2 separate regions of the Homo sapiens genome follow, and region 2 is linked to region 1. Evidence: fine-mapped expression QTL. A gene starts in region 1. The other region holds a variant in brackets. All regions are shown on one strand. Distances are from middle to middle. Region 1 holds the start of ADAT1 (adenosine deaminase tRNA specific 1). Region 2 overlaps TERF2IP (TERF2 interacting protein).

Region 1 (3,030 bases):
AAAACCATCAAGCAGATCCCTAGGATACTTTGCAGGGAAATCTCTCACTCTTGGCCCTATCAATGCTCACTAGGCACATCCTGATCTCATTTGGACTCAATTATACAAAAAGCTTCCCAGTAGAAGATGAGCTTGTGATAGACATAGCTAAGCACTGTAAAACCAAACTGAAGGCCGGGCGCGGTGGCTCACCTGAGGTCAGGAGTTCGAGGCCAGCCTGGCCAACGTGGTGAAACCCTGTCTCTACTGAAAATACAAAAAAATTAGCCGGGCGTGATGGCGCGTGCCTGTAGTCCCAGCTACTCGGGAGGCTGAGGCAGGAGAATCGCTTGAACCCGGGAGGCGGAGGTCGCAATGAGCCGAGATTGTGCCACTGCACTCCAGGCTGGGTGACAGAGCGAGACTCCCTCTCAAAAAAACAAAAAAGGCTTTCCTGAGCTCCAGTGCATGCAGCTTTTGAAAGATGGTATTGTTATGAATCCCCTGCAGCGCAACGTGCAGGCTCGCTACTGTAGTGAATGCTACTGGTAAATCAGACCACAGTGATTTAAAACAAAAATCTGCAGGAAGTGAGACCCTGTGACTTGAAAGTCAGAGGGCCAGGGCAAGCCTTGTCAAGAAAAGAAAGCATGAGATCCTAGAATCCTCGTTTGGAAGGGACTCACCTCTCATTTCTAGGGAGGCATCACAAGGCAGTATAGTTTATGAAGACCACCTGGCCATCGACCTGAAATTAAACCAGAGGTGCAATTCACAAACCTCGATAGGCAAGGCAGGTAGAAGTTGCCAGAAGAAACAGTGACTCTCTTTAAGATGAAGCAGCCCAGAACGGCATCATCTCACTCAGGTAGTGCGTCTGAATGAGCATGCACAATTGTTTAAATGAATAAATGTTTTGCTACACTGGGTCCATTATAATTCGAGCCTACACCCCCTCCTAGATCTTGAAAACTTGAAGAACTTCTTAGCTGAAAATAACAGCTCAGCTAAACAGGCATTTATTTGCCCACAAGACCGCATCTCTGAACAGTTTCAACAAGCTAAAAAAACTGACGTCCTTTCCAAAGAAAAGGAAGTCGGCTGCCAGGGGAGAAAAGGCTTCAGCGATGCTTGGAGGAAGGGACTCTGGTTTACGCTGGCTCCCTTCCTAAACACTTCCGGAAGCAGAGCCCCTTCCCGGCCGCTGGAGAAGCCTGGGTGGGACCCCGAGTCGGCCAGTTACAGGATAGGAGGTGCCAGGCAAGGCACTGAAGCCATGCAGTGAGAACAGCGTGAGCGCCTGATCCATTGGGTCCTGCGGCTGCCAGGCCAGAGGCCCCGCGCCAGGAGCTCTTCAGGCGCCGGCTGCTGACAGTTCCAGGCGTGGAGCGCCTTCCCACGTGAAACGCGTCCCGGAAGATACGATCCTCACAACCTCTTCCCTCAAAAACAGACTCGGCAAAGTTAGCCCGGATAAACCTGCCCCGTCGCCCCAGCGCCTCGCGGACGCTCCCCTCCCACCTTCAGGAAACGCGCCTAGAAGAAAGCGAGCTTAATCCGCCGGTAAGGCGGACGTGACGTCACAAAGCGCCGGTTCCTTTCGGCTCCCGCTCCCAGAGGCGCGCAGTGCATGCCGGGCCCTGTAGTTTTTCCGGGGAGTCGGTGCCAGGGCCGAGATTCCCGCGCTTCAAGTCCCGCAGCCCTGGCTGCGTCTTAGAGAGGCGTGAAACCGGATGATGGGAGCCGCTTGTTGGCTTAGATATTCCTTCAACTAGAATGACGTATCTTGCAGCACTCGGCTGAATTTTTTTCTTTTTCTTTTTTTTTTTTGAGACGGAGTCTTGCTCTGTTGCTCAGGCTGGAGTGTAGAGGCGCGATCTCGGCTCACTGCAACCTTCGCCTCCCGGTTCAAGCGATTCTCCTGACTATGCTGTATTTCTATCTGTAACATCACTGTCCAATAGATATATAATTCGAACCATATACGTAATTTAAAAATTTCCAGTAGCCTCATTAAAAGTCAAAATAGAAACAATCATATATATTTTATTTAACCCATACATCCCAAATAGTATTATTTCAACATATAATCAAAAAATTTTTTGAGATGGAGTCTCGCTTTGTCGCCCAGGCTGGAAGCGGCGCAATTTCGGCGCACTGCAACCTCCGTCTCCTGGCTTCAAGCGATTCTCCTGCCTCAGCCTCCCAAGTAGCTGGGATTACAGGCGCCCGCCATCACACCCGGCTCATTTTTGTTATTTTTAGTAGAGACGGGGTTTCGCCATGTTACCAGGCTGGTCTCGAACTCCTGACCTCAAGTGATCCGCCCGCCTCAACCTCCCAGAGTGCTGGGATTACAGGCGTGAGTCACGATGCCCGGGGTCGGTCTGTCTGTCTCATATATATATATATATATATTTTTTTTTTTTTTTTTTTTTTTTTTGAGACGGAGTCTCGCTCTGTCACCCAGGCTGGAGTGCAGTGGCGCAATCTCTGCTCACTGCAAGCTCCGCCTCCCAGGTTCACGCCATTCTCCTGCCTCAGCCTCGCGAGTAGCTGGGACTACAGGTGCCTGCCACCACGTCAGGCTAATTTTTGTATTTTTAGTAGATACGGGGTTTCACCATGTTAGCCAGGATGGTCTCGATCTCCTGACCTCGTGATCTGCCCGCCTCGGCCTCCCAAAGTGCTGGATTACAGGCGTGAGCCACCGCACCTGGCTGCCGAGTCTCAATATTTTAAAAAATACTTATGTTCTGTTCTGTTTTTAATGCGAAGTTTAAGAAATCTGGTGTGTGTTACACTTAGAATACATCCCAATTTGGATCAGCCACATTTCAGATGCTGGATAGTCACATGTGGCTACTGGCTACTGTAGTACAGTACTACTACAGTGTAGTGGGCAGAACAGGTCTAAAAACCTTTGGATTGCCGGGAATAAGTAATATAGCTGCCTGGATACTTCAGGGGCCTTTGTCACCCAGTAACTGAATGCTCTATTACTAAAAATGAAAGAATTCATTTTTCTTTGTTACCCCTCAAAAATTTATG
Region 2 (2,500 bases), 29 kb after region 1:
CTCACTGCAGCCTTGACTTCCCAGGCTCAGTGGATCCTCCCACCTCAGCTTTCCAAGTAGCTGGGACTACAGGCACTCGTCACCATACCTAGCTAATTTTTGTATTTTTTTGTAGAGACAGGATTTGGCCGTGTTGCCCAGGCTGGTCTCGAACTCCTGGGCTCAAGGGATCTGCCCGACTTGGCCTCCCAAAAGTGCTAGGATTCCAGGTGTGAGCCACCATGCTGTGTCTGGGACTTGCTTTTAAATCCGTGATGTTGGGGCTATTGGCAAGCCATTTGGAACTTGGGACAAAATTAAGCTGTATTCATCCTACCCATCTAAGTAATCTTTTGATAATCAGATATTTAAATGTAAAAATTAAAAAATTCTAAAATGAGTAAGAGAAGATATGAATGAATATATCAGTATGGTGGGAGTTGCTCTGAACCATTTGTGGTTCAGGATGCTGCCTGATTTGCCAGAAGAAAAAAAGTAAAAATATTAGCATGGTGATAAGTTATGAAGCCAAAAAGACAAAGAAAAAGTTTTATATATTTGATTACCTGAAAATTAAGAACTTCTCATGATAAATAAAGTCAGAGGGCATGCTGGAAAAACATTCCCAATACACTGCAATAGACTTAGTTTCTTTAATGTCTAAAGAGCTCTTTGTCATTAAGTAAGAAGTCATTAAGTAAAAAGAAAACTAATAGAAAAATGAGAAAAGGAAATGGAACAGGAAGTTCCCAGAAAAGGAAATAAATAAGCGGCCGATAAACAAATGAAGAAATAGTCTGTTATTAAATGAAAGTAAATCAGACCGAGTGCGGTGGCTCATGCCTGTAATCCTAGCACTTTGGGAGGCCAAGGTGGCAGACCACTTGAGGTCAGGAGTTCGAGACCAGCCTGGCCAACATGATGAAACTCCGTCTCTACTAAAAACTACAAAAACTATCCAGGCATGGTGGCA[T/C]GCGCCTGTAATCGCAGCTACTCAGGCAGCTGAGGCATGAAAATTGCTTGAACCAGGGAGGTGTAGGTTGCAATGAGCTGAGATCAAGCCCCTGCACTCCAGCCTGGGTGACAGAACCAGACTCCATCTCGGAAAGAAAAAAAGAAGAAGAAAGAAAGTAAATCAGACCCTGAGCCTAGGGTCAGTATAAGCTATACTTTGACCCATGAGACCTGTGAGATAATAAATATGTGTGTTGGAATTGTTTTGTATTTATTTGATGAATTGAGATAGCTTCCATTATACAAAATAGAACAAAAGCTCCCCAAGTTATTTATTTTTTTTAACTAAATCAGAGCAAGGAGATGTTATACTTTATCTATAAGATTGGCAAAAGTCAATACAATGGGTAATATCCAAAGTTAGTGTATGGGAAAACAAGTATACTCCTACGTTGTTAATAGAAATTGATACAATTTCTTTGGGGGGCATTTTGACAATATCTGATGACATTTATAACGTATATTCCCTTAAACATGGCAGTTTTGTTCTAGGAATTTATCCCGTAGATATACTCAGAGTACAAATGGGTACATACTGAAAAGGCAGTCTCCCTATTTACATACCCTTTTCCCTGGGTCCTTTCCTAGGGGCAGCCTCTATTACCGTCTCTTGTCTGTTGCATGTCCCCTTTGCTCATAGTAATACTAGCACACTAGACATCAACTTAATCTGTGGTTTACTTTTTTTAAACTTAATTATTTATCTTGAAGTGTTTGTGTGTCTGCACAAAGCTTTTCCTCATTCTTTTCTAATTGATTGCACTGTATTTCATTATGTGAATGAACAGTAATTTACTTTTTATTATGGAGAATTCCAAGCATTTACAAATACAGAATAGTATAATGAACTATACTGCATATACCCATCACCCACCTTCACCTGATTTTAGTTCATGGCATTTTTTAAATCTATACTTTTCATCCCAACTTCCTGGACTGTTTTGAAGCAAATGCCAGACATCATATCATTTTATCTATTTTAGCATGTATCTCTCAAAGATAAGCCTCTTTTAGTTACTATTTAAGAATTTTATTAAATACATACAGTAAAATTAACTTTTTATGGTGTAAAATTATATGCATTTTAAAAACTTTATTTTTTATTGTGGTAAAATGTATATACCGTAAAATTTACAGTTCAGATAGTTTTTTAAGTGTTCTGTTCAGTGGCATTATTAAGTGCATTCACATTGTTGGGCAACTGTCACCACCATCTGTATCTAGAACTTACTCATTTTCTAAAACTGAAACTCCATGCCTTTTATTATTTTCTGCTTCTAGGGGTCAGAAACATGCCTATTAAACACTAATTCCCCATTTCTCCCTCCTCTTAGCCCCTGGAAACAACCATTCCGCCTTCTGTTTCTATGAATTCAATATTTCTAGATACCTCATACAAGTAGAATCATGTAATATTTGCCCTTTTGTGTCTGGCTTATTTCACTTTACATAATATCTTCAAAGTTCATCCATATTGTAGCATGTGTCAGAATTTGATTCCTTTTTA

Evidence for each region. PIP is the estimated chance that this variant, and not a neighbour inherited with it, causes the effect.
Region 2: its variant is fine-mapped to the expression of ADAT1 in whole blood (INTERVAL, PIP 0.95).

What each region holds. Positions count from the first base shown.
Region 1 is chr16:75,621,738-75,624,767 of GRCh38, forward strand. ADAT1 (adenosine deaminase tRNA specific 1) reads right to left here and starts at 1,544. Exons shown (of 10, transcript NM_001324445.2): 1 at 666-1,544. RefSeq lists enhancers at 1-297, 298-817, 818-1,337, 1,219-1,458, 1,338-1,857.
Region 2 is chr16:75,650,607-75,653,106 of GRCh38, forward strand. All of the region lies in intron 1 of TERF2IP (TERF2 interacting protein), which reads left to right. Among named protein-coding and RNA genes, the nearest start is that of TERF2IP, 4.1 kb to the left of the region's middle. The variant T/C (reference allele first, on the strand shown) is at 953.